Regions from separate parts of the Homo sapiens genome. Here regions 1 and 3 are each linked to region 2. The links come from fine-mapping of genetic effects on gene expression. A gene starts in region 2. Each other region holds a variant in brackets. All regions are shown on one strand. Distances are from middle to middle.

Region 1 (11,076 bases), 97 kb before region 2:
TCCTTAAAAAAGACAAAAGAAAACCCATTTATTCTTTGTTTTTTCTCAAGCCAAGGAGAAAACAGTTCTACTTCTCCATGTTGATGAAATAGATTTGTAACATGTTTTTATTCTAAACCCTAGCCCTTTAAATATATGTATATATATCCACTATCTTGAGCTGTTTGTACTTTTTTTTGGTGGCAATTATTCTGCCAAATAGAATATTTTGTATACAGAAATTTCACAACAAAAGGAATATGACTCTTACACTTACTGTGTTCAAATCTGAGACATGAATTTCAGTGTGTGACCCTCCCATGAACAAAAATCTCTATACTTTTTTGACTAAATTAACCATGACATGCATTTGCTTGAATTGTTTTTTTATTTTTCTTTTGTTTCTTTCTTTTTTAATCTTACTATTTTCTTCTGCCTTTCTCATTTCTTTGTTTTTATATTTTTAATTTTTTTGGTATTTTTTTTATAACAGCTGTAGTGAGATATAATTCACATACCATAATATTTACCCTTATAAAGTATATAAAACTCAGCGGCTCTTAACGCATTTGTAGAGTTGTGCAACCACCACCACTAATTTTAGAATACTTCATAACCTGACGTAGACTCTATACCCATTAGCAGTTATTCCCTGTTTCCTCTTCCTAGCCGCTGGCAACCACTAATCTATTTTCTGCTTCTGTAGATTTGCCTGTTTTGGACATTTTATATAAATGGAATCATACAATATGTGACTAGCATCTTTCACTTAGCATGATGTTAATGTTTTCAAGATGCATCTATACTGTAGCATATATCAGTACTTTATTCTTCATTGCTGAATAAGATTCCACTGTGTGGATATACCACATTTTATTTATCCATTCATCAGTTGATGCACATTTGGGTTAGTTCTTCTTTTTAGTTATTATAAATAATGCTGCTATGAATATTTATGTAAAAGTTTATGTGTAGATATATGTTTTCAATTCTTTTGAGTATGTGTGTATCTAGAAATGGTCTCCTTTTTTTTAACTTTCATTTTTTAAAATCCGAGATAAAATGTCAACAATACATTGTTATTCACATTTTTAGTTATTTTATGAATCATTTGTTTAATTGTGGTGTTTGACTTTTATTAATTTCTTAAAACTCTGTATATTCACATATTATTGTCAAATTATTGCAATTTCATTGCTTTAAAAAAAGCATTTTAATTGTTTTTTGGCCCAGTGTGGTAGCTCATTCTTGTAATCTAGCACTATGGGAGGCTGAGATGGGAGGATTCCTTGAGGACAGAAGTTCAAGACCAGCCTAAGCAACATAGCAAGACCCCCATCTCTATTTAAAAAAACAAAACAAAAAAACCAAAAATGTATTGCTCAATAATTATTTTGAATTTAAAGTTTATCAAAGTTACAGATAGCTTAAACATAAAATACAAGTCTTATTATTATGGAATAATTAGCAGTATCCCTCTCCATTTCTTCTCCCTAGATAATATTCTTTTAGCTTTTTCTTATAGTATTTACTTCCATATTTCTAAATAACATGCTTATCCTGTCATTCTTGGTATTTGTTTCATATATTACCTGTTAACCTCTTAGTATATTCTCTACCTGTCTCCCTCACACTTCCCATTCTCCCAGCCTACTAAAATTCTTATTAATTTTTGTTAGATCAATATTGAACATTTGCATTATTATGACTAAATATAATTTTTGCTGTTGTCATCTAGTATACTATGAATATTTATTATTCCTTGTTCACATTTTTGTTTTGGTTGTCATACAAATTATGATTTTTCTGTTTAGTTTTCTACGTAATTTATCACTAATTCTTTCTCTTCCAGATTGCACACATCCTCTTAGTAACTCAAACTTAGTAGATTTCCTATCAATTTTATCTTCTTGTGGCCATTCCTTCTGTACTTGTCTTGACTGGTTGCTTTGTAGGCTTGCCGCACAGCTGAATTTTTCCTTTACCGTCACCCTGGGGATTTCTGTTTGTGTTTTGCCTTTTCCTTGTTGCTCTGCATCCTTTGAGAACCTATCCTCTGGGCTGGGATGGGTTTCAGAGCACCTCAGCTAAGGTCTTTGATCAGTTATGCTCCGTAGCTGGAGGGCTGCAAAGTGCATTCTCATGGCCACTGCAGCTCTCTTGCCTCTCAGATTTCTTATCTTTGTTTTCTTGGTTTACTCCCTTGTTTTAGTAGATCGTATCGTCTAGTAGCTTAAGAACATCATGGCCCAAGATCCCGCTTCAGTAGTCCTCAAATATTTGGTTATTCCCCTTTCCTCAGTGTATTCCCACAGAAATGACCATAGGTCCCTTAAGACAACGACTGAGGGAATCTTTGCAGTATATATTTCTTGGGGGAATTGCAGGGTCCTTCTTCCTGGAGACCCGGCCATCTTATCATTTAATGGGTTTCAGTTTAAAAATAGGGGCCGGGCGCAGTGGCTCACGCCTGTAATCCCAGCACTTTAGGAGGCCGAGGCGGGTGGATCACGAGGTCAGGAGATCGAGACCATCCTGGCTAACACGGTGAAACCCCGTCTCTACTAAAAATACAAAAAATTAGCCGGGCGCTGTGGCGGGCGCCTGTAGTCCCAGCTACTCCGGGGGCGCTGAGGCGAGAGAATGGCGTGAACCCGGGAGGCGGAGCTTGCAGTGAGCTGAGATGGCGCCCACTGCACTCCAGCCTGGGCGACAGAGTGAGACTCCGTCTCAAAAAAAAAAAAAAAAAATTGGCTCAGGCCGGGTGCGGTGGCTCATGCCTGTAATCCCAGCACTTTGGGAGGCCGAGGTGGGCGAATCACTTGAGGTCAGGAGTTTGATACCAGCCTGGCCAACATGGTGAAACCTTGTGTCTATCAAAAATATAAAAAAGTAGCCGGGCATGGTGGCATGTGCCCGTAATCCCAGGTACTTAGGAGGCTGAGGCAGGAGAATCACTTGAACCCAGGAGGTGGAGGTTGTGGTGAGCCGAGATCGTGCCACTGCACTCCAGCCTGGGCGACAGAGCAAGACTCTGTCTTAAATAAAAAGGCTCAGGTCTGGAAACTGAGCAAGATATTATAATTTTTATTGGGACCACTGTCCTAAGCTACCTACTCCTCCATTCTTTACTTGTTTTGATTGTAGATGTTAAGTAGTACCCTTGTAGGGTGCCAACTTGTTTGGACCCTAGAAACTCCAAATTATATTCATCATTTCTACAACTGCCTGACAACCAAGCCCCCTCTGCTGCTTCTTTAACCTTGCTGGTTTTTAGAGTAACTGTGGCCCCTGGCTTCTGGCAGTTACCTGGTCTCTCTTACTCTGGGGGCTCATCATGCTCGCTACAATTAAGGAGCCCAGCTCTGTAATAGAGGAGGCTTGATCTCCTCTCATACCTTCAGTCCTGGCCTACAGAGCAGAGCCACCACTGAAGTTCTTCGTGATATCAGTGCCCCTCTCTCACTACTCCTTGTTAAGAGCTAGCATTTACTCCACCTGAGAAGACCCTACTGAGGCCTTTCCACCACAAGGCAGCCAGAAACCCCTCACAGTTACCCTCCGTCTGCTGACAAGCAGATAACTAGTGTTAAATCCCAGCCCAATACAGCTGGGGAAGTTCTAGGTCTGAAGGATCTGCAAGAAGGATCTGCAGGAAGAGGCAGCAGCATCACTGAGATCTTGTTGGTTCCTGCAGTCTCCTAATGGTAGGAGAGATAGGCACCGATTTGGGAATCCAGTGACCAGGAATTCTTGGGGCTACCCACCCAGATGTTTCAGGGCTCTGGTCTTTTTGTGACAGATCTGCCTTGCCTGATAAATGCCTCTGCAGCTCCTTATTCTAAGTCCTATGATTGCCCCGCAGCTGAGCTCTCTTCCACTGCAGGGTGATAAGGATCTCTTTGTAAGCAATACCACCGCAAGTGCATCCTGGCTCTCATACTTAACCTTTAGTTGTTAACTGCTCTCAGTTTCTCATCACTCTGAAGGTTTTCAATTCAACTTAGTAATAACTAGCTACTGTCTTTGCAGGTGTTAGTCCCACTGCATCTTTTAAATGCCTGGATTCTTGAATTGGCAAGCCTGTTTTTCTCAGGGAATGTTTCCCCAGGTCATCACCTGTGAAATAGTGGCAGTCGAGCCACTACCTTGAGCCAGGGACAATCTGTGACCCACTCTCCACTCAGCATGGGGTTTTCCTTGCCATTCAGTGATTCCATCCCCAATCTCCACCTTTTAGCCTGCTTTCTTGGACTGTTCCTGGTACCAACTATGTCAGTTAAGTTCCTCTGAAAAGCAGATCTCAAGATGGAATTAGAGGTGTATGAGATTTATTGGGAAGAAACACCTGTGAAGGATAAAGGTTATGATGTTATGATGTGTGTCTGACACATGTGAAAAGAGCATGGGAAGGAAGAAGTAGCTCTGAAAAAGGAAGTCTTGCCCAGGCCTATTGAGGCACCCATATGTAAAGACTATCCACCAGAGAAGTCCCTCACTGGTTAAGAATTGTCTGTTTCTGGGACACCCACAATTTTCCACAGTCTTCCACAATGTTCAGTCACTGGGAACAGTCTGCGGGGAGAAAGGCATTGATGTGAACACCATGGTGGATGCAGGAGGTACAGCAGGTAGGGGCTGTCAGCCAACAGTCTCTTTTGCGCAGGTTATCTCTTGAAAGGAAATCTGAGCGGTGCGTGTTCATAACTACCATAGCTATTGTAGCTTGATACAACGCCTGCTTTGCTGTAAATCAGGTTTATTTGCAAGAGTTTTTATTTATTTTTATATGTATTTTGATTTTTAATATGTACTTTATTGATTTTTATATGTATCTTGTGCCAGTACCACATTATCTTAATTATAAGAGCTTTTGCTGGGTGCCATGGCTCACGCCTGTAATCCCAACACTTTGGGAGGCTGAGGTTGATGGATCACTTGAGGCCAGAAGTTTGAGACCAGCCTGGCCAACATGGCAAAATGCTGTTTCCACTAAAAATACAAAAATTAGCCTGGCGTGGTGGTGCATGCCTATAATCCCAGCTACTTGGGTGGCTGAGGCAGGAAAATCACTCGAACCCGGGAGGTGGAGGTTGCAGTGAGCTGAGATAGTGCCACTGCACTCCAGCGTGGG[T/C]GACAGAGCAAGATTCTGTGTCAAAAAAAGGAGAGAAAAACAAAAAGTCTTGTTATTTGATAGGGCAAGTACCTCCACGTTAGTCTTCGGACACAGGTGTATCTGGGCTATTCTTGTTCTTTCCTCTTTCACATAAATTTTTAGATCATCTTGTCAAATTCCACAAACAGGCCTTGAGTGTTTTAGTTGGAATTGCATTGAATGTTTAATATCAATGGGAGGAACTGACATGATATTGAGTTTTCAAATCCAAGGATATGGTATATACATCCATTTATTTAAATCTTTTAAAATGTCTTTCAATATTTTAATCTTTTTTCCAGAAAAGGCTTGCATATCTTTTTAAAGATTCAGAGTTGGCATTTTAAATTTGGTTATTTTTGTAAATGGTATCTTTTAAAAAGTTACAAATTTTTTTTTTTGGTCGTTTCTTGCTGGTGTGCAGTCGTGCCTTTCAAAACGGACCTACCTTGAGGCAAAGGGGCCAGGACTTCATGCCCCACATCAACCAGGCATTGGATAAGGGCGGCCCTCAGGGACTGGGTGTGGCCCCGTGTGAGGAGTCTCTTGGCCTGCGGGAAATGCCTGGAGAGTGACTCAGCTGAGAGCTGTCAGCCGCCGACATTCCTGTCAGCTGGGGAAAGACTCCTCAGGTCCTGACGGGACTATCTCAGCAGCAAGCCCTCAGCAACCACTAAATGCCTTCTAATGGGTTAAAGAAATTCTCGTTTATTCATAGTTTTAAAGTTAAATGTTCCTGCTTTGGCAAAAGAAGGAGAGTGGTCCAGCTGTCTTGCATGACATTTGGATCTGGGGTTTAACTGTTTGTCTAACAGACTTCCAACTAATCATTACTGTTTCAGTCTTACCTTTACCCCCAGTTTGCAGAACTACCGGATGACTTTCAAACCTGGGCCTTTCTGGTTTTGCAGGAAAGACTGGCTTGCTTTAGGCTTCCCCTACTGCCAGCATAGGTTTTAGCTTTCTTTGATTATCTAAATCAGTTACCACTTCATCACCTGCTTTCTAACCTTCCAAGTTTTGGCGCTGTCTTCCCTTGTTTTCTCTTTGTCTTGTACTCCCTCCTTTTATTTTATTATTACTTACAACAATTGAGACATCTAGGGTATCTCTTTCTCTGTTTTTTTGAGACAGAGTCTCACTCTGTCGCCCAGGCTGTCGTGCAGTGGCGCGATCTCGGCTCACTGCAACCTCTGCCTTCCGGGTCCAACCGAATCTCCTGCCTCAGCCTCCCGAGTAGCTGGGATTACAGGTGCCTGACACCACGCCTGGATAATTTTTTTGTATTTTCAGTAGAGACGGGGTTTCACTAGGTTGGCCAGGCTGGTCTCAAACTCCTGACTTCAGGTGATCCGTCTGCCTCAGCCTCCCAAAGTGCTGAGATTACAGGCATGACCCACCGTGCCTGGCTGCTATCTGTCCTTTTTAATCCTTGTGATTTAAGTAGGGCTTCAGGAAAGAGCAGAGGTATAATAATGCTTCCAATTGCTCTCTTGCCTGAAAGCCCTGTTTGATTTGGAGATTTATGAAGTATGGGCAAAGCAGGCTGAGTTTGACACATGCTGTTTCTAATGCCTGAAATTACATCCTCTTCCATCCTTGCTTGTCTAACCCATCCTTCAGCCCTCACTTTGGTAGTCACATTTTCCAGAAAGCCTGCCTTCACAGCCCAAGTCCTGGATTAGATGGCCCTTCTAGGCAATCTCATTATAATCTGTGTTCACTCACACTTTGCTGTAATTGCCTGTTTGCCGGTCTTTAAGATCTCATAGGCTAAATGTTTTGATTAGTGGGATTGTATTTGATCTCTATTGGAGTCCCTGGTCCCAAGCATAGAGATGATTTAAGAGGTACTCAGTAAAGTTGTATTGAGTGAATACGTATTACATAGCTTTGAATTGATTTCTGATCAATGCAGTAACTTACAAAGTTCTCACTTTCTGCAAATATTTTTTTCATTCTTTCTTTGCTGGGCTGGAGAAACCAAAAAGGCAAAATACTAGTTTTATTTCCGTGGACATTGGAAGCTTTAACTAATGTCATTTAAAAAGTACTTGGATTTCATCTTTAATATGAAGAGTTAGATGGAGTGGCTGATGTATAAATTTCTTTCTTTAAAATTATTTGAAATTCTTGGAAAGTTTTCTACTTAATCTTTAAAAAAAGGCATTGTAAAAAATCTCTGGAAGAAAGGCATTATGACAACGACTGCATATACAATAAAATATGAGGATAAAATATTAAAAATGGAAAAGAGATTTTTAATGAGTTTTAGGTGTTCATAAATATTGTTTAGGTCATAATCCATTTTAGGAAATATAAGCAACATTGATAACTTTGGCAACCTTTTAATATAAATTAATTTAAAATTGCATATCATATTTACCATTCTGTAGAGCAATACTCTTAGTGCTTTCATACTTTGCAGTCAAAAGTGCCACTGTGCCTGGCCTGGATGGCAGGAAGATTGCTTGAGCCCAGGAGTTTGAGACTAGCCTGGGCAACATGGCAAGACCCCATCTCTTTAAAAAAATTAAAAAAAAAAAGGGCCATCCAATGGAACAAAACTCAGACTGATGTAACCTTTCCAAGATAAAGTTCTTGGAGAGTTTGTTTTGACTGATACTTATATACAGGAGATAACACAAAATTATACCTACTCATCTTCTGATTCTGAAGGTCCAGGCCTCCTTTTACGAATATTTGTAGATAAGGAATACCCTGGAAGATGCTTTTGTGACAAGCAAACTCATCCTCCAGTATAGAAAATCTGTTACAGGGTCTGTAATTCAGCTACACAGGACATCTGGAAAGGCAGACTTTGAGGGGCATTCTTTCTCTTTCATGTGTACACTTTTATCAAAGGAGACAATTTCATTTGCTTTTAATTTTTTTGGACTTCTCTGAAGTTACACATGCACAATGTAGATAGTGTGAAAAATATAAAAAAAAAGTATTAAGAAAAAATGAAAATCACCTGGAATCTGATTGCAGAGAAACCACTCCTGATATTTGATTGCATTAATTTCCTGGCTTTTCTTTCTTGATGTGTTTATTTCCTCCCATGGTTGAGACACTCTAAGTATAGCTCCAGGTCCCTCTCTTTCCACTTAGCAACGAATCATTGTTATTTCTTTAATTCATTAAATATTCTTTGAAAATATAATTTTAATGGCTGTGTAATAGTCATCATATAAATGTACCATAATTTAACAGTTTCCCTGTTTATCACCTTATAGAATGTTTTCTTATTTTTCCTATTATAGCAATAAGCTATATTTCATAACTTTATTGTAAGTCTTGTTATGACTGAGGAAATTCAGTCTGCAACTCTGAAGAATGAAAGTAAACACAGATTTGTAGTAGAGACTTTTTTGAGGTAATACATGTGAAATGTATGTAAGTTACTAATAGAAAAGATAATATATTTGGTAGGTATGATTAGTATTAGTGTATGGGGAATTTTATTTGTATTATTTATATTATCTGTATTGTTAAACTTAAGCAGCCTACTATTTCAGAAAACGTTAAATCATATCTACTTTCAGAATAAATTAAATCATAAACCATAGTCTATATGACATAGTTAATATATTAAACCAAGTGTTCTCAGAGAACACTCGTTGTCAAACTGGATGGCAAGCTATTAGTGGGTGAAGATATATTATTCCTTGTAACCAACATTTTTTTAAAATAAAATACAATAGAATATAAAAATATCAAAGGGCATGCCTTAGTTAAGTTTTCTTACTGGAAAGAGTGAAAGCTACTGGCATTGACTGATAGAAAAGTTTATTGTTTTATAACCACTAGAGGGCAGTCATTACATTAGTTTTAAAAAAGGCCAACTAACAGCTTAATACAAGTTGACCTAGTTTTACAACTGATTATGATAGACATAAAATTACATTTAAAAAGATTGTCGGGCTGTTAATGTACTGTTATTTGAGGACCTATTACATGGCACACATTGAGTTAGGGAGACATTGATGAATAAGACATGTTCTAGAATGCAGTGAGAAGGTAAGTGTGATATTACAAGGCAGTTATGCATGTCATTTGGGCTTATGTTTGCCTTTCCAGCCTCATATCCTGCCACTCCCCAACTTGCAACCTGAACTGCAATCATGCTGAGCTACTTGTAGTCACCTTGAACATACTGTTCTGTCTTCCTGGAATATTTTTTGTGTCCCTCTCTGCCTGGTGAACCGCAACTTATACTTTAAGCCCCAATATCCTGACTTTCCCAGACAGAAAAAAATATGTGCTTTCTCCACTTGACTCCTTTAGGGTCAAGTTCAGCCCTATTACAGTTGATTACTTATGTCTCATTCCCCCAGGAAACTGAACTACTGGAGGGCAGGGAATATATCATTCATTTTTTTTTTTTTTTTTTTTCTGTAGCTGGGGTATAGTGCCTGGCACATAGACAGTGCTTAACATAAATATTTAGTCAATAAGCAAATAGAAGTGCTATAAAGAGATACTGTAATGAATTTCTTTCTTACATAATCTCTCTATTGATCTTCTACCCTCTCATTTTGTATATGCCACTAACGTAGCAGCTATTCAACCGCCAAAGCAAACCAAAGACAGACTGACTTATTGATGGTGAGGGAGGGTTAGGCTTTATTGAATATGAAAGGCAAAGGGAATTTTGGAGGATAATTTAGGTTTCCCTAGTTATTTTCCCCATGATGACTTGCAAGATTATATTTACTTTAGGAATACAATAGCTAAGACTAAATAACCTTTATTTTTCCATCCCTTCCTTACTTTCGCAATATTTACTTGGCCAAGTAGGTAAAGTGGTTTTGTTTGCCATTTGGCTAGCAGCTAATGATGCTGACACCTTTGGTATTAAGAAGACAGGGTGCCAGCCGGGTGCGGTGGCTCACACCTGTAATCCCAGCACTTAGGGAGGCCAAGGCAGACAGATCACCTGAGGACAGGAGTTCGAGACCGGCCTGGCCAACATGGTGAAACCCCATCTCTACTAAAAATATAAAATTAGCCAGGTGTGGTGGTGAATGCCTGTAATCCTAGCTACTATGGAGGCTGAGGCAGGAGAATTGCTTGAAACCGGCAGGTGGAGGTTGCAGTGAGCCAAGATCGCAGCATTGCACTCCAGCCTGGGAGACAAGAGTGAAATGCTGTCTCAAAAAAATAAAAAAAAAAGACAGAGTTCCTAGTACATTCCACTGGTAGGCTATAAAAGCTTAAAAGATTTAAAGTTTCAGTATGTTCTAAGTGCTCATGTGGCGAATTAAACAATTCTCCACCCAATTGGTATATGCATTTGTTTATAAAAGGTTTCGTTATATGTTCACCTTAGTCATGTTTGTAAAAAGTTGAAAAAATATTTTTAGCTAATTCTAAATCTTGTAAATAAGCCTATACTCATAATCATCTGGAAAATTCTTCTCTGAAAAGAAACCTTGGCTGGGCGCAGTGGCTCATGCCTGTAATCCTAGCTCTTTGGGAGGCCGAGGTGGGTGGATCACTTGAGGTGAGGAGTTTGAGACCAGCCTGGCCAACGTAGTGAAACCCCGTCTCTACTAAAAATACAAAAATTAGCCAGACATGGTGATGGGTGCCTGTAATTCCAGCTACTCGGAAGGCTGAGGCAGGAGAATCACTTGAACTTGGGCGGTGGAGGTTGCAGTGAGCCGAGAAGGTGCCCCTGCACTCCAGCCTGGATGACAGAGCGAGACTCTGTCTCCAAAAAAAAAGCTGGTTGTACATGGTAGAGGTTAAGTCAGTTCTAAAGACAGATAGACTTTGGTTTGATTCCTGGATATATCTTTCCCCACCTTTGCAACTTTGGGCACATTACTTAACCTTGCAACACCTCAATTCTCTTATTTGAATATGGACATAATAATAATGCTTCATGGGGTTCCTAGGAGGATTAGATGAAATCCTGCATATAAAGAGCTTTG
Region 2 (11,076 bases):
ATTATTAATGGTAAAACAGAATACTAGAAATACACTCAATAATAAACTATGCGGTACATAATTTGTTAATTCAACATGTTAATTTCAGGATCCTATAGTGCTTCAGCATCAATATTATAAAGAAACTCTATTATTACATATTTCAGAATAACAGGTTTATTTGAACATTTTGTTGTTTAGACCTTTGCTGATGGGGGCTTATTTGTTTTCTTTTGTGTTGCTATTTAACCATCTTTATACCATAGGCCATAATTCATTTTACCTTCATTTTAAATAAAATTTTACACTACTTCAAGACAAAGACCCAAACACACTCACAAACATATTTTTACTTAAAGATTTCTTTTAAAGGATTTATAAAAATCAAACCAAAAGGGAAGAAAATTTGGTTCTTTGCTAGCACAGAAAAACTGTTTTTCTCTGATAGAATATTTTAACAAGAGCCAGACTTCAACAAGATGTCTAGGTATTAAAAGTGACAACTCGGCAGTAAAGAAAAGTGCAACTTCCTTTCAGGGTGCACAGGGCCAACATGAGGTTGAGGGGAGGAAGATGCTTTGGCTTAAGTGAGAAGCAAGGAGGAGACAGTTCTGTTCTCTGTTTGACATGTTTGAAGTCTCATCACGACAGCATAAAGAAAATCACAAATGTAATGTTTGTAATGTTCTGACAACTATATAGTCTTCAATTTAACCAAATGATTTTCTACTTTCTTTATATATAAGTATAATAGTATAGTATGTTTCCTGCTGAATTATTAATTATTAATATAAAGAATCCTGCTGCTTTTGTATCATTTCAAATATGGTATTCAAGTTTAAAAAAATTAGATGGCTGGTTAAATTTTGTTTTTTTATACAAGCTGTATGGTAAAGGTAGGAGTTCCATAAAAAAAACACTGCTAAATACCTGTCCAAAAGAAGGGAATTTTTATATACTTAACATTAAAAAAACAAAACCAAGAATAATATGTATTGTAACATGTGATTTTAAAGCATAGCTTATTCTACCCCACTCTATCCTCACTTCTCCTCTCCCAACTTAGTCTTTTATCCAGTTAGGTTGTTTAAAATGTTGCCATCACAAATAACTATGTATTATATAACCCATTTTTTCCCCAAATCTATTAAAGCTATGTTGATTCGATTTTTCCTCTACTGTACCTTCTTCCTCTCCCTTAACTCAGGTACTCTAAATCCCTTGCTTGGACGACTACAGTGCTCCTCTAATTCTTCTTACTCTAAACCTCTATTTGAACCTACACAAAGTCAGCTAAATGCAAATCTGATTGTGTTTCTCTTTGTTGTTCTCCAAAAGCTCCCTATCACCTTCATGAAAAATTCCAAAGTTCTTGGACCTATATATAAACCATTCTATAATATAGTTTGTTTTTTCAACTTTATTTCTTAACATTTCCCTGTATGAATCCTATGTCCAGACGCACTAAGATAATTATAAACAGAACAACCCGTGATGTATCATACCATTATCTCTTGGCACATGCTTGGCTAACTCTACTCATCCTTTCAGGGCCATCTCAAGCAGTTCGTTCTACCTTGAAGCCTTTTCTAACCTCCACTAGATGACTTGATGACACCTTCATGAGTACATGATAAGTGTCTTCTCTACATTTCTGTAACTCTCACGCCTGGCATGGTTCTTAGAATATAGTAATGATTTAATAAAAACCTCCTGAATTATTCCCTTGGAGAAAATTCTCTGGGGTAGATATGAGGACAAAAGGCATATGCATTTTTATATCTTTTAGTGCATTATAGAAAACTTGGCTCCTAAGGGGGTTATACAAAAGTATATGCCATTAGAAATGTATTATGTACCTAAGTTTCAAAATCTCATGAGCATGGGGCAGTACCTTTTAGAAACACAAGGTACAAAACTATGTTTTATTATGTATGTATTAGCAAAATACAATTTATTTATTTATTTATAGACAGGGTCTCACTCTGTTGCCTAGGCTGGAGTGCAGTGGCATAATCTCGGCTCACTGCAACCTCCACCTCGCAGTCTCAAGCAATCTTCCTGCCTCAGCCTCTTAAGTAGATGGTACTACAAGCATGCACCACAACACACAGCTAATTTTTGTATTTTTTGTAGAGATATGGTTTCACCACGTTGCCCAGGCTGGTTTCGAACTCCTGGACTCAAGCAATCTGCCTACCTCGGCCTCCCAAAGTGCTAGGATTACAGATGTGAGCCACTGGGCCCAGCTGAATGGGTTCACTTCACTTTCTATAGTAAAAGTAAGATCCCATCAGTGAGCCTGGGGGGAAAAAAAGACAGGTGGGTGGGAGTGTGTGTGTTTGTGCTGTTTGTTGGAACAGACCTGTCAGGGCATCCAAGTCTTATCAAGTGGTAAGACAGTCTATCGAGTGTGATGGAAGGTGACAGAGACCTGGCAGAGGCATTCATAGGAAAAAGAAAGAACCCTGTTCCTGTTTAGGTGAAGCTGGAAACCATCAATCTTTAGTGGTACAATCTGTATTGTTTTGTGATTTTTCTTTGACAGCATTTTTATTATTCGCATGAAGGAGTAAAGGAGCAGGACTATAGTAGTTATTGAGTGGCTGAGGCAGAATGATTGGGGTACAAATAGCCAAAGATGTTGGTGAGAGAAAGTTCAAATAGTTAAGAATAGGGTATAAACTGGAGAGGAAAGGAGAGGCAAGGTGGGTGCTAGGATAAAATGGGAGGGTTGAAGGGTAGAGATATTTATGAGGAAAAAAAGGCAGGTATAAGGGGACATGAGAGACCTTCCTTTTTTTTTTTTTTTTAAATTCCATTTCTATTTGAACTCTCAAAAGAGAAAAAGAGATTGAAATGACAGAACTTTAGCTAATTTTAATTAAATAAACTTCATAAGGTTTTGTTGTTTTATAACCTTTAGAGTCAGAAAATTCTGACTCCAGTGAGAAAATGTCTTCAACAGAAAGCCAGATGGCCTCTGAGTATCATGTTCATATTTGAAATTGAAATGTAAATGTTACCACATACTTGCTTATTTTAAGGCTGTGGTCCTTTCATTTGCTTTCTTTCCTTTTTTTCATTTAGTCATGTAAATTTGAGCACCTACTCTGTGCTAGGTATCCAATGGGAAACATTATAGACACAAAGAACATTCCAATTAAACTTATATAAAAGGTACTTTAGTGTTTTTCCAGCTAGCAAACATAATGTTCTTGATTTAGTGTTATAATCTTTATTATGTTCAAAAATAATTCCTCTGTTCCAATTTAAATATATATTATCTAAACATATATATACACACATATGCAAACTAGCAAAAATATATATAAACCAGCACACACACACACACACACACACACACACACACACACACACACACACATTGTTGGATTTTATCAAAGTCTATTGGTCATCTATTAAAATGTTCATTTATAACTTGCCTAATTTTAACTATATATTTAGCCTTTAAGGATCTTTTTTAGTGTTGTATTTCTTTATAGGAAATGTCATTCTAATTCTGGAATAGAGTCTATTTGGTTGTGTTCATTCAAAGTATTGCTGGATTCTATTTATGAATATTTTCTTTGGCATTTGTATCAAAAATTTATACCACATAAAATTTAAAAAATGAGGCCTACAACCATTTTATTAATGAAAATAACAGAAAATACACTCTCAATGAGCCATTTACAATACTTCCCTATTTTCTGATTTAGAGATAAATCAGGGTCGTGTAATAGCAGTTGTGTCCAAGAAAATATAATGTCAAGAGGCCAGAATTAAATCCATACAGAAAATGATTGTGTTCATTTCAGAGTAACCTTTAAGAGGGCAATTTTGGGGAGCAGCAAGGGCAAAAGCCAAACTGAATGGGGTTAATAATGAATAGATGAGAGGAACTAGAAGCAGCTATTGCAAGCTACCATTTTGAGAACCTGCCCAAAGAAAGAAAAGACTGAAGGGATGGAAGATTGCAGAAAGCATGATCGGAGAAGAGATATTTTACTTTTAGTGAAGCTCTATACACATTTGTCTTCCTCACTAGATTTGTATCCCTAGAACCTAGAACAGAGTCAGCCAAAGAGCAGGCACTCAATACAAATTGTTGACTTGCTGCTAAAATTGTAACAGAGTACAAAGAACATCCTAGAAATTGGAGACAAAGGGGATAAGAAAACAGAGTTAACTTGGAAAGAGAAGACACTCATCTCTGACAAGACTGAAGATGATTACACAACACCATCATTGCCAACCAAGTCCTTTGGGAATACAAAGGTTAAATCCTAATCATCACAACAGTCTCTAAAGGAATAAACCTGATTTACAGATTTTGATAACAAAATACTTCTCCTCTTTCCATTTTCTACAATGCAACCAACAGCAACATCAAAGGTAGGCTTAACCAACTCTTCGAGAAAAGTCAGAGTTAATCCAGATTGTAAAGCGTCCAGGTCCCCTGTTTCTCATTTCCTCTTTTCTGTCGCTCTGACAACAGACTGGGCAGAGATGGAAAACAAAACAACTTACCAAACTGTGTAGCCTTTAGCAGCTCTGGTAAATGCATTTAGGGCTGTGTTAGGATAACTGTTAAAACGGACTCTTTAGGATAGCAAAACATTTTACTTATTTGTGTAATTTCTCTCTCCAAGTAGTACGATAAATCAGGAAGTAGTTAATATGTAAGTAAAGAACATAATGGCATAAAAATATCCCCACAGAATACACAGTTGATGTGTTTTAAAATTCACAAAAATTTTACAAAGTTGAAGAATGGGAGTAGGATAACAGGGTGATGGGGGGAAGCAGCCACAGAATTAGATAAAATGGTATAATTTCAGGTCTAAGGTGAGACACGACAGTTGCTAAAGGAAATATCTGCACTAAGATGACTTGCTAGTTTTGATCACCCTGCGTCAAAGGTAATGGGAATCTAATTGGAAAAAGATGGGCCCCGTTTTCAACATCGCTACCCTGGCAGCCACAGGCTGGGAAGGATACAGGTAAGAGCCAGGTCGGTGATGCCCGCCGCTCTCCCGAGGGCCGAGGGGGGCTCTGTCGAGGTTGTCCGATGATTCAGTGCCCAGTTCCCCGACCGCGCTCCGGGTTCCGGGCCTCCCCGCCAGCATCCTTCACTTCAGCGCCGCCTGTCTGCTCGCCCCCAGAACCTCCCTCATGGCAGCTCCGGCTTCCTCCTCCTCCTGCTCGGCCCCTCCCTACACTCCGTCTCTCAGGCCCCGCGTCACGGGCGCGGAAGGGTTGGCCTCGACAGCCCTAGCTCCCGCGCAGCGGCACTGGTGCCTGTAGCGGCGATGGCAGCTGAGGCAGCGGCGACCTCGCCGGGCAATAGCAGATGGGGCGGCAGCAACCCTGCAGCCGCCATCTTGACAACAACCGACGGCGCGTCCTTGACAACGGAAACCTGGGAGGAGCTACAGGTCGGGGCGGGACGATGTGCCCGAAGCAGCCAATCGCAGGCTCCGGCGGCCCCTCCAGCTTCGAGCGGCGGGTGGCAACCCAAGCATCCCTAGGGACCCGGGTTGTTGCGCGAGGGGTGAGCTGAGTGTTGTTTTAGAGCCTGATGCAGTTCTGCCTCCCTTTTTATGAGAGTGTTTTTGTGGCAGTACCGACAGTGACGAAAGACAGATGTAAAATCCTCAGATACAGGCAATTGCCACCGGGAGGAGTCTGCAGTGATTGTCTGGGGGACAATTTGGAGTTGAATTTGTTAAACTACTGAATCCTGTTGTGAGATTTTGAGTTGTGAGTCTTTCTGTGGCATCATCATCCCCAAACACCGTCTCTTTAAAATGTCTTTGTGAAGTGGAAATTTTCCTTCCCTGCATTCTCTCATCCACTCGGTAATGCTTCTGGCATTCCCTCTGCAGTCGTCTTCCTTGCCTTTGCCCTACTTAGAAGGTCTACATTTCAAAGCCTCCTAATGGTTCTCGCATTGCTGCCAGATTCTGGAAATGGACCATCACAGCAAAACTAGCAATCTCTTGGGAAGATATGCCAAAAGAGATCATCGCATTGAAATGGTTTTGGGAAGTATGGAAAATTAAATGGATTTTTGAGACACTAGTTTATTGGCTATGCAAGTGACAGTTTTGAAAAAGGCTGAATCTTATTGTTGGAGCCTAATGTAAATGCATATATAAATTCTGACTGTATTTCAGTCAGTGTTTTCTTGGAAAAATTCCCAGATTGGAAGCAGAAAGTACAGACCAAATAAAGATTATTCACCCACCATTCAAATGTCTCTGCCTTTGTGAATTAATTTGTTCATTTTAAGATTTCAAATAATAAACTTTTCCAGTTGAAACTGTTTAAAACAATCTTTGCAAACTTGGTTGCAATGACTCAAATTGGAATGTACACTGGCGACAGATTTTAAAGTGCCACAACAAATCCAGTTTCGATTTAAGACACAAAACACATGAACTCTCCTTCAGAAGCATACCAACAGGATAAAATATACAATTCTGACATGAAAAGCTAAATGTATACAACTGGACACTTGGCTATCTTGGCAAGTTTTTAATTGGCCTAGCCACAGGCAATGGCCTTGATTCTATTCCCACTGCTGTCATCACACGTTTGTCTCCCCATGGGTGATCTGAGTAAAGTAGGGCAGTGCAAAGTACAGATGAATATGAGAATATTAGAGTTGCTATTTGGAATATTTAGGCATGGTTAGCTTTCCAGAAGTCCAGCTTTTGCTATATTATTAGTTTGCGATCTCGTAAGTCCTAGGCATCTCACTGCTTTGTGGCTTGGTATATTAGCACTAAGAAGCATAATTTGGTTTCTCAATTGCCTATAAATCCTTTCTTACGTTAACTTAAAAAAACACGTAATTTATGAATCTAGAAAGGAGAGGAAAGGGTTACAGCCTGAAAGGAGGGCCATCCCACAAGCTGGGAGTGTGCCTCCAACTGAAGCCTAAAGAGGCAGGTACTTTGAAGGAGGGATGTTGAGGTAGGAGATTTATGCTGAAAAGTTGGCTAAACATACATAATTTATAGGATATAGGAGGAGCTATGAATATTTATGAAGGTAGTTCTGATGCATGTATATTGAACAAACAGTAACATATGACCCATGTTCATTTTGGGCTGGAGACTTAACATTTAATTGCATTACAATTAGGCCCTATTATGTCTAAATTTTTTTTAGGACACAAAGGCACTCAAGTGAGCAGTCCTCTTAAACTGGCCAGAACCACCTCATGGTTGGTGATGTTCTCATCAGGAGAAAGTTATTGAAATCAGTCTGTTGTCCAATCAAAGCTGTAGTTATGGCTTATGGAACAGAGGGTCAGTTAGTCAGTGTCTGGTGGTGAGCTACGATTGTTTTACTATTGCTTATCTCAAGGCCAGTGTTTGTTTAGCTGCTAGAGAAAAACAGAAAACTTGTGGAAGTTAAACATAGTTTATTCTTTAAGTGTAGGAGTGCATGACTTAACCCTTGCCTGGCATGGCCTTAGGTCCTATTTGTAATTTGATATCTTACTGCCACCAAGTGTCTGTTCCGTCAGTCTAATGATCTCTACTTTAACGTTAATCCTGGTCAATTGTGTCCAAACTACAACAGGAAGAGGATATAATGAGGCATAGCTGACCTTCCATCCCATTATGGCTGGGAACTCAGTTTTAAGGTTTTCCCAGGGTCCCCTTGGCCAAGAGGGGGTCTATTCAGTCAGTGGGGGCTTAGGATTTTATTTCAGTTTAGACTTATATAATTATTCTTCATTCAAATATTGTTTTACGGTAACAACCAAGAAGAAAAGAAATTTCAAACAATGTTGCCAGTTTTTTTAATCATAGGTTTTTTCGACCTTTAAATTCTTTCTTTATTTCTTCAAAATATTAAGTGGGTTTTCCACATTCTATTTAAGTTGTAGAATCCTAGATTCTTATAGAAAGGCAGGGCCCAAGGGGCTCTGAACATCATGATGCTTGATTTTGTCATGACTTTTTTGTCAGTGTTATTTATGGAAAAAGGCTTTAGGATTAGATATTTGGATAATAAAAAATTTGAGGATTTTATCAACTTCATCTCTTGACAGGAAAGGCAGTTGTGATTCAAGCAGTAAAGAAGAATGTTACCCTAAAATCCCTATTTTTTATCAGAAGGGGCATCTGAATTAAATACAATGTTATATTCTTTCACACTTTAAAACCATAAAACAATTCCTTCTTTTGCTAAGGAAATATATATTGAGCACCTACTATGTGCCAAGCACTTTCCAGGTGCTAGGGATACAGTGAATAAAACTTCAAAGTCCTTATGTTCGTGAAGCTTATATTTATTTTTCTTCCCCACTAGAACATATTAGGGTAGTGAAAAGTGCTACATGGAAAGTGGGATAGTGAAGGGGGATAGAGACCAATGTCAGTTCTATCTGTGAGAGGGTGCTCAGGAAAGGCCCCAAAGGAAGGGAAATTAGGACAGAGGTCTGAATGAAGGAAAGAGGTTGCCATTCAAATATCTGGATGAAGAATAAGGGCACAGGGGTCTGTGAGTACAGAAGACTGTGAGGACAGAATCATACTGTTGTGCTCAAAGAACAGCACAAGACCACTGTTGCTGGAATAGAGTGAGGTAGGGTGTATTAGGCAGTTCTCGCACTGCTATAAAGAAACACCTGAGAGTCGGTAATTTATAAAGAAAAGAGGTTTTATTGGCTCATGGTTCTGCAGGCTGTACAGAAAGCATGGCAGCATCTGCTTCTGGGGAGGCTTTAGGGAGCTTTTTACTCATGGTAGAAGGAAAAGTGGGAGCAGGCATCTTACATGGCAGGAGCAGGACTGAAAGAGAGAGGGGAGGTGCCACACACTTTTAAAATGACCGGATCTCATGAGAACTCACTTACTATTGTGAGAACAGCATCAGTGGGGATATCTGCCCCCATGATCCAATCACCTTCCATCAGGCCCTACCTCCAACATTGGGGATTACAGTTTGACGTAAGATTTGGGCGGGGAGGCCTGGCATGGTGGCTCACGCCTGTAATCCCAGCACTTTGGGAGGCCAAGACAGGTGGATCACCTGAAGTCAGGAGTTTGAGACCAGCCTGGCCAACATGGTGAAACCCCATCTCTACTAAAAACACAAAAATTAACTGGGCGTGGTGGCAAGCGCCTGTAATCCCTGCTACTTGGGAGGCGGAGGAAGGAGAATCGATTGAAACTGGGAGGCAGAGGTTGCAGTGAGCCGAGATTGTGCAATTGCATTCCAGCCTGGGTGACAGAGCAAGGCTCTGTCTCAAAAAAAAAAAAAAAAAAAAAAAAAAAAAAAAAAAAAAAAAAAAAAAGATTTGGGTAGGGATGCAGGTCCAAACCATATAATAAGGGAAGTGTGCTAACATATGAGATTGTAGAGGTACATGGCCCAGATTTAGTGGCGACTTGTATTGTATGCAAGGACTTAATGTAAAATCCAACTTTCAATGGAGGGAAATCCATTTGAGAGTTTTGATTAGAAGAGTAACACAATTTTATTGAACCTTTAAAGAGACCCTCTAGTTGTTGTGGGGAAAACTAGGTTGTAGGAGATAAGACCAGAAACAATAAGGACAGTTTTAAGGTTACCAGAGATGGCAGACTTGGACTAGGATGGTAGCAGTGGAGGTGGCAAGAAATGTTTACAGTTTGAACCTTGAGCCAATAAGATGTGTTGGTGGATGGTTGCAGTAAGCGAGAGAAAAAAAGTCAAATGTGACTCAGATTTTTGGCTCAAACAATTGGATAAAGTGTGTTGCCATTACTAAGATGGGAAAGAATAGGTAGGGGTGGAATAAGGAATACGAGTTAGGCTTCAAACATGTTAAATGTGAGATGTCTATTAGACATGCAATTTCATTAATGTGGTCTCATAAATCGTTGATGTTTTATTTACAAAGGAAACTAATAATAACCACTTTATGGTTATAAAGCATATTCACATAACTTATCTAATTTGAATATATATATATATATATATATTTTTTTTTTTTTTTGAGACGGAGTTTTGCTCTTGTTGTTCAGGCTGGAGTGCAATGGCATGATCTCGGCTCACCACAACCTCTACCTCCCGGGTTCAAGCAATCCTCCTGCCTCAGGCTCCTGAGTAGCTGGGATTACAGGCATGCGCCACCACGCCCAGCTAATTTTGTATTTTTAGTAGAGACAGGGTTTCTCCTTGTTGGTCAGGCTGGCCTCAAACTCCCAACCTCAGGTAATCCGCCCGCCTCAGCCTCCCAAAGTGCTGGGATTACAGGCGTGAGCCACCGCGCCCAGCCTGAATATTATTTTTAGTATCTTTAGAACAGAAAATAAACAGAATTTATTTGAGCAAAGAATGATTTACGAATTGGGCAGCACCCAGAACAAGAAGTTCAGAGAGCTCCACCCAGCAGCATGAGCAGCAAGATTTTGTTGGACACAGAAACAAAGTAGAGGAATCATGTGATTGCCTACAGCTAGGTGTTTATCTTATTTGGGTATACTCTGATTAGTTGGCTGCCTATGATTGGCTGAAACTCCACTATTTGTTACAAAAAATATACTCCTAAGTCAGGCTGCAGTTTGCTACAGAGGAACTCAAAGTACAGAGACAGCCTCAGGCAATGGCCTCCTGCTTATTTAATTTAACAAGTATTATAACCATGTGGCAGCTGTGATGGACAATTTTTTTGTGCTTTCACTTTTGTCTTGGCTGAGGCTATTTTTTTTTTTCCATCTTCCACTGAAGTATTTTCTTGCTCAAATAAGAATTTCCTGAATTGGTCTCTGGGCAAGATGTGAAAGAACAAAGAATTTTAACATCTGGCTGATTTAAAGTTCTGCCAACTTCTGCTGAAGTTCTGCCATTTTCACTTGAATTTTGTAAGACTTCAACTAGAAATTTAAGATTACAATATGTGTATTTGCCTATTAATATAAATTATAAAAGTCATCAATATTGTCCGCAATGTTACATATCTTTTAATCCATACAACAATTTCCATAATACAAAGGAGGTAATCAAGCTATAGCAATATTAGTAACTTTGTCCAAGATTCCAGGGTAAGGGAGTGTTGAAACTAATCTTTAAATCAGGCAATCTGGT
Region 3 (11,076 bases), 40 kb before region 2:
GTGTGTGTGCATACACTTATCCTTCTTGGAGTTTGTTGGGCTTCTTGAGTCTGTGGATTTATAATTTTCATCAAATTTGAAACATTTCCAGCGATGGTTTCTTTAAACATTTCCATTCCTACTTTGTGAAATTTTATTTAAATTTTATTTTTAATTAAATGTGTTGATGGCTTTATATGGTCTCACAGGTCACTAACAAACTGTTCATTTTTTTCCAGCCTTTTTCTCCCAAAGCTTCAGCTTGGATAATTTCTATTGCTATGTTTTCAAGTCCACTAATCTTTTGTTCTGCAATGACTGCAATGTTAAGTCCATCCAGTCAATTTTTCATTTCTGATAGTATGTTTTTCAGAACTAGAAGGTCTGTTTATTTCTTTTTTCAATTGTCTTTCTTATGTACATTTTTACTTTAATTCCTTGAAAATATTTGTAAAAATACGTTAAAATTCCTTGTTGGTTAATTCCATCATCTCTGTTATTTCTGTCTGATTATATTGACTACTCTTCTCCTGGTTATGCGTCATATATTCCTGATTCTTCACATGTCTAGTAAGTTTTGATTGAATGCTGACATTGTGAGCATTATGTTATTGAGTATTTAGATTTCATAGTCTTCTTTAAGAAAGTGTTGGCCAGGCATGGTGGCTCATGCCTGTAATCCCAGCATTTTGGGAGGCTGAGGCGGGCGGATCATGGGGTCAAGAGATGGAGACCATCTGGCCAACATGGTAAAACCTCGTCTCTACTAAAAGTACAAAAATTAGCTGGGCGTGGTGGCGGGCACCTGTAGTCCCAGCTACTCGGGAGGTGAGGCAGGAGAACTGCTTGAACCTGGGAGGCGGAGGTTGCAGTGAGCCGAGATTGCACCACTGTACTCCAGCCTGGTGACAGAGTGAGACTCCATCTCAAAAAAAAGAAAGAAAAAAAAAGGAAAAAAGAAAAAAGTGTTAAGTTTTTTTGTTTAATAGGTAGCTTGGGTTACTAGTGGATCTTTTTAAGGCTTATTCAGGCAACATAACTACGTAGAAAGCCTAGGTTATAAGGCTTACATCATTTCTTTCCCCTTTTCAAGATCACATCCTGCACTGCCTCTGACCCATGTCTACAAGCAGTTGTTTTATTTATTTTGTTCATAATTATAGTTGTTTATGGTAGGAAGGCACATCACGATAGCTGCCAGGAATCTTCTGTTTTGCTTTCTTAGCCTTGCCACTGTTGATTAATTGTTGGATGAATCAGGCCAATGTTATGAATTTAATCTTATATTGGTTTATTAAAAATCTCATAAATGTGCATAATTATTAATGAAAAATAAAGTACATGGATGGACATGTAGGAAAATCAGCTGATATCTGTATTCAGTTGTGGAAAAAATAAAGTATATGCCCTACTAGGGATAGATTACAAACATCATTTCTAGCAAATTCTGCCATATTTCCATTAAGAAACTAATATCTACATGTATTATAATTTTCTGGTTGCTTTTTATAATACAATCTCTAACAATAATACATTACATTGTACTTTCAAAGGTAAGGAAAAAACTAAAAAATTATTTCTATAGTTTCTATGATGAATTTGTGCTGATTCATCCACACTGTCTTTCATGGCCTGCTCTCAGCTAGTAAGATATTTCTTTAGTGGAGAACACTGCAAAAGTGGAGCAAAATTAGTGCAAGGAATTAAAATATTAACAACATTTTTATAGTTTCATACTTGCAAATTGCTTAGATGTTGATCTTCGAGGAGTTTCTGAGTTTCCTCCAGTTTAAGCTGGAACACATTTTTGCTAGTAGCCAAGGTTGCCCTCATGTTTTCATTCATTTCTTTCTCACAATTGATTTTGGATAAGAGTTGTTTCTGATGCTTGTGATCATTTTTTGATAATGCGGAAGGCAAGGCAGAATCTATAGCTCTGTGAACCAGACATAAAAAGTGCTTAGTACATTTAAATAAAGTTAACTTCTTTCTATATGTATATACATGACACATTAGGTGTAATACGTGTGTGTTTGTCCAGATAACCACATATAAGGATATTGGAGAAATATATAGACATGTTAGAATGAGAATTTAAGGCAATCAATAGTAGAATAAAAGTAGTTGTGAGACTAAAGTACCAGTAAAGAACTCCACCTTCATATAGGAATGCCCAGTAATTCATGGCTTTGATTATTATAACCTATCCCTCTATAATCTGGGATAAGGGTAGAAGTAATTCCTGTGTAGAGTCAGTCCTCAGGTCTTTAAGAGCATTCCTATATGGATAATAATATACTGCATTACCCTTCTTTCTGAGTTGATGTCATGGCTAGTAGGTTAGGAAAAAACTGTAACCCTAATAGTGTTGGTTGAAGATTCAAGCAGATAGAAAATATAAAAATTGCTTGTCAGGGTCAGCAGGAATTTCCTCCCTATTTAACTAGCATTGGGAACTTGGATCGTCCTCAATGGAGGCCAAGTACTCACTTATTTTCAGTTATTTCAGGAATATAAACAGGAATATAAGCATGGTTTTTATGCCACAGAAGCGTACCCTTAATATAGAGTCTACCTTTACTATGCTAAAGGGCCATCCAAACATTTTCAGTGCATGACATCATTTTCTATTAGAATTTTGTATCTTCTGCAAATCTATAGCATGTTAGATTTCAGCACATATACAAAGTGAAAGCAAAGAACTAAAGAAGAGTTTTGGGGGAGGATAGGATGGGGATGAGACTACCATATAGCTGAATGCTGCTGCACTGGGGCTGGCAGTGTGAATCCAAAGAGCATTTATTCCTAATTCAATTAAATTATTCCCACTTTAATGAGAATAAAAATGTTTTGGAAGGTGATAGTGGCCACATGTGATATATACCTATTCCCTATCTCCAATATCCATATATATATCTTTATTTGGACAGACTGGAGTAGTCAAGGTCAATGATTACTAGATTAACTATCCCTTTGTGATCACACATTTAATCAGGGAGAGCAAGAAGGTATTTAATACAAGTTCCTGAACATTGAGAGTATGTTTCTGTCTCTTCCTTTTACACTTTCCTACTCTTAGATAATCCTTCCCCTTCAGTCGCCCTTCCCAAACAAAATATTGCTATATCTACAAAATATCTAATAAACTCAATTTATTTACCTTTAAAGTTGTCGTGTCTCAACTTTCTTCTCTATTCCTTTCTTCTCTACTCCACTTTCTTCTCTTCTCTTCTCTACTTTCTTCCCCCAATGAGGAGGATTGAAGGGGTGGATAGGAATAAAAGGAGATGGGGAGGTAGAAACAGAAGGAGAGTGAAGAATAGGGGGAAAGGAAGAGGAAATCATAAAGGAAGAAGAAACAGGAGAAACTGGAGAGGGAAAAGCTAAATAAGTTGGAGGCAAACCTGGAGAGGAAGATGAATGCAAAGGAGAGGAAAAAAGAGGGATAGATGAAGGAGGTAAGGATGGAGAAGTAGAACAGGAAGTCGAAGAAGAGGAAAGAATAGATGAGGAGGAAGAAAACAGTATACAGGCTGAAGAAAAGGATGTGGAAGTAGAAGGAGATGAAGGCAAAGAAGAAGATGGAGAATGACAGGGAGATGCAAGGGAGAGAACTGAGGCTGGTGGATGATCTGCAAAGGCCTCGGGCTGATTTGACAATGCTGTGGCTTGTGGAACAGATTGCTGGACTGACTGAAAAGGATCCAAGCTAGCAGGATGTGCAGGCAACGGAGTGACATAAGAAAGAGTGGGGACTGGTGGATAAGGGGGGTGACTGGATAAACAGGAAGGCTTCAAAACAGGGAGAGGTTCCAAAGGGGTTGGGGAAACAACCAGTGGAGCTGGAAGGGAACGACGAACAAGGGTAGGCATTAGAGTGGCTGCAGTAGAATGCTGTGCTGGAAGGAAATGTTTGGGTCTGAAAGTTTTGTAAAATAACTTGTGCTGTGACTCAGGGTCAGGAATGATTGGAGAACTCTGGGGTGCGTGGGGTGGATGGCCAGGTGGGCAAGAAGGAATTGGTGCTGGTAGACGAGGGAAACTGCTAGAAATGCTGGAAGTAGCCGGGGTTGGAGGACAAGGATGATATTTAATTGGGTAAGGCAGTAATGGGACTGGTGCAAAGGTCTTTGGAAGAGTAGAGGGTACAGATGGATGGATAGGCAGTATATGGGGCTGGCGGGCAGGAGAAACAGTTGGGTAGCTAGGAAGAATTTGGAAGTGGTGGGACCGCAATGGGACCCGTGGAGGAGACAGTTGATCAGGTAAGTAGGGGTCAGGTGTGGAGACAGCTGGACAGGCAGGAATGGATCTGCACAGGTGGAAAAGCATTTGGACAGGCAGGCAGAGAGACAGCCTTATTAAGATTATTTTTTTTGGTTTATTGGGCTGCCTCTAGGCTTTTGATTCATGTTATTTTCTTGTCCATAGGGTCCATGTATGATCATCCTTTGATCAACCAGTGTCCTCTCACATGTACTGAAAAACGTACATAGCTTATTCAGGTTCGCCATTTCTTATTTCTTGCTCTTAGAGTATTTTCACTTCTCAGAAGCCTTTTACTCACACAGATACAGGAATATGGGCTGGACAATCTGGTTTAAAGCATGAGTTCAAAGGGCAAATAGAGGTCAATAGATAACTGCTCAGCTCTGGCCAGATTTCTCAGTGTAGCACGTAGTTCAGGATCAACTGCCACACTACAGATACATGGATATTGGAGATAGATATCTAGCAGTATCATTTTATTAAAGTTTAACCATTTAATATGGGAGACAATATATCCCCTTTTACTTTACACCTTCCAGAATGGTCAAGCATATTAGCTTTATGATAAGGATTTGATGGTGACAGAAGACTAATTACTTCTTATATTTTTAACTTTACTCCCTTATTAATATTCTTATATCTCACTATTTGCTGAAGCAGCTTCTATGTTCATGAGAATATATTCTCTGATTTATCTTAGGGCTTAAGCACTAAATGCCCTGCACTTTATCATATATTTTTTTTCTCTTTTACATGATCAGATTGCCAACATCTTATTTTTATCTACCACTAACATTTTCCACATTAGAATAATCTTACTGATATACCTCTGCTTCTTTGTAAGCCCCTTATTTCTTGGCATTACTTTATTTCTTAACACATTTAGGTTTACATTCCACTGAAAATGTATTTTTAATGTGATAGTAGTTTATCAATGGTTTCAGCTTAATTACATTTTCAATAAATAAAAATATGTCCATTAACCTAACACCTGATTCTTAATATTCCAATATCTCATATTTATATAGAATTTCAAATTTTACAAAGCACTTTCATATACATTACTTAAGATTATTGGTTATCTGTGGAGAGAAGTCTAACTTTTTAATAAGTAAATCATAGTGTTCTCACTATACATTGTATACACTTGTTGTTTTCCAAATACATAGAATTTATGTGATATATATATGTATATATAAACATACACACACAGATAGATATAGATATCATGAAGTCAAAGTCAAAATAGTATGTTAAAATAACATGAAAACTAACTAGGTATTCTAATGCACAATGAAGATCATTTCTATAAAACAAAGATGATGTGTGTTATTTAATGATCCTAGCATAGACTTGCTGTAATCATATATACATGTTTGCTGCAGGGAAAGCAAAGTTGTTCTGACAGTTTAACTCTTCTAAGACTTCAAGCAACTGCACACTGTTGAACAAGAAAAACGCCTATGCTTTTCTTCATTCTACAAGAGTTTTTAAAAATTGAAAATATCTGTCTGGGCATGGTGGCTCATGCCTGTATTCCCAGCACTTTGGGAGGCCGAGGCGGGTGGATCACGAGGTCAAGAAATCGAGACCCTCCTGGCCAAAATGGTGAAACCCAGTCTCTACTAAAAATACAAAAATTAGCTGGGTGTGGTGGTACGTTCCTGTAATCCCAGCTACTTGGGAGGCTGAGGCAGGAGAATTGCTTGAACCCGGGAGGTGGAGGTTGCAGTGAGCCGAGATTGCACCACTGCACTCCAGCCTGGAGACAGAGTGAGACTGTCTCAAAACAAACAAACAAACAAACAAACAAAAAAGGAAAATAATTCAATTAACATAAAGTATAACAACTGATAGAAAAAAAAAACCTGAAAGTGAAGAAGCCCTGTATAGAAAATGTACATTGCTTCTACATTAACTGGTTTAGAATTTTTAAAATTAGTCTAAATAAATCCCGGGACTCCCTCTAATTGTTTGTCATCTCTTTTCAGACAAGCTTTCCTATAGAGTACTCTAAAATTATATTGACACATATAAT[A/G]TGGTAGTAAATTATATTACTACCACAACTTCCACTTGTCTCTTAACCCAACTGTTATCTGGCTTCCACCTCTATCACTTCAATGTACTACTTTGCTTGTGGTTAACTAATTACCTAGTAATTGCAAAAATAGGTATTTCTTGACCACTATCTTTCTTGATTTTAATTCCCTTGGTTTCCGCATCATCACATTTCCCATTTATTTTCTTACTTCTCTGGTTGTTCCTTCTCAGGCTCTTTCTTGAGCTCCTCTTTCTTTGCCTGTCCTTTATATGCTAAAATTTTTGAGTTATGTGGCTTTCTTTTTTTCTTATCTATATCCATACTTTCTTTGTAATCTTACTTATACTGTCTATGTGACCTTATCTATATTAGTGTGTGAGTAAAGGGTTAACAAAATCTTCTCCTTCTCTATGGACCAATTCAACTTTGAGTTAACTTTCTAAGTCTATTTCTCTGGATAATTAGTAGGATTTAAGCTGTGTTACAAGGCACATTGATTATGGTAAAAATGGCCCTTCATTGGTAAACCACATCTGGACTAAGAGGACTGCAAAGAAACCACAGGTATCTGCTAGAAAGCTATAGTTTTGAGTTTCCTCGAGTATGATAATTCTTATTACTGGACATATCTCTTCCATGGGAGAAATTCATATGGAGCCATTACAAAAACATTTGTTCCTGTTTAGAACATGGGGCGTCTTATCCAGAATAGGTAGATGCCTACCCATTGTGATAATGTAAGCATTATAAGCCTTAAAGCTGAGCTGTCACTTGTAGAGGGTAGAAACATAGCAAAAACTAGCCCCTCAACTGTCTTGTGGCCTTCTATAAGGATTCCTCCTATTGAAGAATGTTACCTAGTTGGCATGCACTGTTTTCTGGTCTCTAATTGAAGCCAAACAGCCTGGTACAGTTAAGGGAGTTTGATTGTTTAGCTGAATCTAAGAATACCACTGGCAGATACTGCCATGACTTTAACTTTATTCATTCATTGATGACTGTCATGTCTACATTCATGGCCCAGATTTCTTACTATAAGAAATTGGCTCTTGAATATCTCATAAGTGTCTCAAACTCAAACATGTCATTCTCCTTCCAATTACTTCCTCCCCTAAACCTATCTATTCTTCCCTCATATTCATCATTTTTGTTTTTTACTAAGGTAAGAACACTTAACATGAGATCTACCCTCTTAACCTCGTAGTCCTCATTTTGATAAATGGTTTTACCACTTTTTCACTGACCAAATCTAATCTCTGGAGTCATCTTTGATTCTTCCCAATCACTCCAGGTCTTAAACAGTTACCAAAGCATATTGATTGTACCTTCTAAATAGCTTTCAAGAAGTCATTGTTTTCATCAACTAAAGTGCCATTTTACCTGATTTTACTGCTTTCAGTGTTCTCCTTTTCTTTTCCATTCTGGCAATATTTCCAACCTATAAATATTGTGTTTGCTTCGAATCTTTCAGTAATTGTTTTTAAAACAAACTCCTTACCGAGGCTCTTCATGATCTAACTCACGGCTTCTTTTCCAACCTATCTGCCCACAACTCTCTTCTCACTGTACACATTAGCCAAATTGTGCTACTTGTAGCTCCCTTAACACAACATGCCTTTTATGATTCTATGCCTTCTCACATGCTAATATTCCTTCTGGTTGAAATTTCCTCCCAGTGTTTGTCTCAGATAAATACCCTCCTCATCTATCTAACTTCGGGCCACTTTTATACACTTTGAGAAGTGTTCACTCATGTCAGTGATATTTTTCCATTCAAGGTATTTATTGAATACCTCCAACATGAGTACTGAATTAAGCACTATAGGGAATACCTGCATATGTAAGACTGAGACACTGTCCTTTAGAATATTACAATCTGGTTGTGGGGACAAAAGTACACATGAAAATTAAGCAACAATATATACAATCATAACTTTCAAATCTATTTCTAGAGCCTTGGCCTCTCACCTCATCTTTGGTTAAATTATTTTTACACATTTCTACATGGATATTTATCCCCTCAATTCAGAAGGCTCAAAGGGAATTTTAAAAAGTTAATCACATTCCCTTAATCAGCAAGACTCAAAATATCAGTCGCTTTTTATTTTTTTGCTTTTTTTCATTTCCTTTGTCCTATACCAAACTCATCTATTCTTTTAATAAAATATCTTTTCTTTCTGCTTCTATTCTGTCTATTCTCCAATTCTTGTTGCTCTTCTTTCTCCTCCTCTTCCTCATCTTCTTGTTCTTTTCTTTTTCCTTCTCCTTCTCCTTTTTCTTTTGAGACAGGATTTCACTCTTGTTACCTAGGCTGGAGTGCAGTGGTGTGATCATAGCTCACTGTGGCTCCAACTCCTGGGCTCAAGTGATCCTTCTACCTCATCTCCTCGAGTAGCTAGAGCTACAGGTGTGTGCCAGCATGCCCAGCTAATTTTTACATTTTTTGTGTGTGTGTAGAGATGGGGTCTTGCTCTATTGTCCAGGTTGGTCTTGAACTCCTGGCCTTAATTGATTCTCCTTCCTCAGCCTCCCAAAGCACTGAAATTACAGGTGTGGGCCACTATGCCCAGCCTATACTTCAATTCTTATACTTGTAATTGATCAACATCCTTAAACTCTTATTTCTTTATGCTACTTCTCTGCACTGTGAAAGCACATTATCTTCATTCTTTCTTCTCTCTCATCCTCTCACTACTAAAAACCTTTTATTATCAGAGCCATCCTTTCTTCACTATACAAAATAGTACTGTTCTGGTTTAGGCAGTAAGGATCTATCCCTTGGGTTATTCCAATAATTTCCTCTCTGGTCTCCTTGCCTCCAATTTCTCTCTATCCTCTCTATTCTCCAACATTTGCACCATTTATCTTTCTAAAATAAGAAAGAGGATGCTATCACTCCCTGCTGAAAAACCTCCATTGGCTCCGCACTGGTTACAGGATAAAGTTCACACTCACTTGCTAGACATACAAACATTTTACATCTGATCACAATCTACATTTCTAGATCATCCCCTGTCCCATCAGCAACACATCCTGTAGTCCCGACACTCTGAATAAGTTCTATTTCCTCAGGGGTCTATGCCTTTCACAACACTGTAGCACTGCACATGCCTAAAACCCAACACATGCTTCTCTGATAAATCTTAACTCATTCTTTAAGACTACCTTCTACCTTCAATGCTGTACTTCTTTATTACTTTGCTAGTATTTCTGTAACAACCCCCATTATACAGTATTACATGTGTATTATGTTGTAAAGACCAACAAACAGTATTATAATGTAATTGCAAACCCTTGCTAGGCAGAGGACCATATCTCATTCACATGTGTAACCCATGCTAATCAGTGTCTAACACAGAATAAGTACTTTTGTATCCTACTCTACCTTTCTAGACTGCGATTCTGTTGCTCATCACTTTAATATTCATATTTAAACATCATAAGATCTTTTTTAAGGGAAAAGCCATATATTGGCCATACATCTCTTCTGGCTATTGTCCTATCACTCTCTAACTTTCACAGTCAAACTAAACTTGTTATCCTTTTTGCTCTCCATTTCTCTTCAACTCATTGCAATTTATTTTCTGCCCCCACCACTCCACTAAAATTGGTCTGACAAAAGTTGCCAGTAACTTTTTTTGTTGTGAAATACAGTGGACCCATTGTTTCTATGTTGGATATTCTCTCTTTGCCCTTCCAGATTCATTACCACATTTCTCTACTTGACTCTGCTCCAAGAGACTGAATGATCCCTTGCTCTTTGATTTATGGCTGAGTTTGGCCAGTGGAAGGTACCAGAAGGAGAAAGGAGGGTGACAGAAGAAAGAGGTTTTTGATAATTATTCCTCTGACTTCCTCCCTGCTGGGCTTGCTTTAGCAGTGGCTTACATTCCTCTCCCTAGGACCACAGGACCTGTCCAGCGTCCTTCTTCTACAGTATAGCTCTTTTCAGTTCAGGTCTGTGTTGGTAATACTGACTTTGTGTCAGTTCTGGGGGTGCTTTACCATCCTTTGTTGGTTTTATAGTCCCTTACTTAACCTCTCAGTCACCTCTTTTAAGTGTGCCTCCTGTTCCCTGCCAGGATCCTGACTGACAGACATTATGTGTCTGATTCTTTAGAAGTCATTTGATCTCTGTAAACTATTTTTTTTCCCATGAAAATTTATCCTTCCCTAGTTTTCATGATACTGACCTCTCCTAGTCCTATATAAGCCATTCTAGCCATTGTGTTTGCAAGCTTCTCTTCTTTTTCCACTTCCTTAAATGTTGCTGTTCTTCACTGCTCATCACACACATACTCTCCACAGTTGACCATATCCATTACCTTGGCTTCAAATGCCTTTAGCCTAAGTCTTTCTCTTGAGCTCTAGGCTATATAATTTCTACATTTATTGAAATATCCCCAGGTTTCAATCCATTATCCACAATTGTTCACAATGGATTGGAATAATATGTTTAAAAAGACAATTTCATCTTATCACTAATTTGCCTAAAATTATTCATTGACTCCTCTTAAACTCTCAAGATAAAGTTTATATTTCTTGGCATACAGATGCACTTATCTCTCCAATCTTGTATCTGGCAAAGCCATCTGTATTTTGCATTCTATGATGTACACATACTCTTACTCCTAGAGTATATCATGCTTTTGATTGCCCTTGGCTTTTGCACATGCTCATCTCTCTGTCTAAAATGCCATCCACTCACTTGTTCCAAATAACTACTATTTTCTTCAAAGCTTTGCTGAAGAATTCTCTGTCCCATGAGGTCTTTCCTGAACTCTAAT

Alleles and levels. Alleles are on the strand shown, and positions count from the first base shown. SD is a standard deviation of normalised expression in the study named. Not every link is listed here.
As copies of T replace C in region 1, the expression in prefrontal cortex of the gene that starts at base 5,386 in region 2 goes down (small effect, 0.23 SD a copy in ROSMAP).

What was found.
Region 1: its variant is fine-mapped to the expression of CEP126 in prefrontal cortex (ROSMAP, PIP 0.95).
Region 3: its variant is fine-mapped to the expression of CEP126 in whole blood (TOPMed, PIP 0.92).

What each region holds. Positions count from the first base shown.
Region 1 is chr11:102,005,906-102,016,981 of GRCh38, reverse strand. No RefSeq gene overlaps it. Among named protein-coding and RNA genes, the nearest start is that of CFAP300, 36 kb to the left of the region's middle. RefSeq lists enhancers at 4,860-6,059, 6,345-6,971. The variant T/C (reference allele first, on the strand shown) is at 5,114.
Region 2 is chr11:101,909,320-101,920,395 of GRCh38, reverse strand. CEP126 (centrosomal protein 126) reads right to left here and starts at 5,386. Exons shown (of 11, transcript NM_020802.4): 1 at 4,984-5,386. The coding sequence starts at 5,111. It overlaps ANGPTL5 (angiopoietin like 5), which reads left to right and starts at 3,874. Exons shown (of 9, transcript NM_178127.5): 1 at 3,874-4,377. RefSeq lists an enhancer at 5,368-5,467.
Region 3 is chr11:101,949,007-101,960,082 of GRCh38, reverse strand. It overlaps CEP126 (centrosomal protein 126), which reads right to left. Exons shown (of 11, transcript NM_020802.4): 5 at 1,717-1,915. It also overlaps the pseudogene LOC100418997. Among named protein-coding and RNA genes, the nearest start is that of ANGPTL5, 38 kb to the right of the region's middle. The variant A/G (reference allele first, on the strand shown) is at 6,287.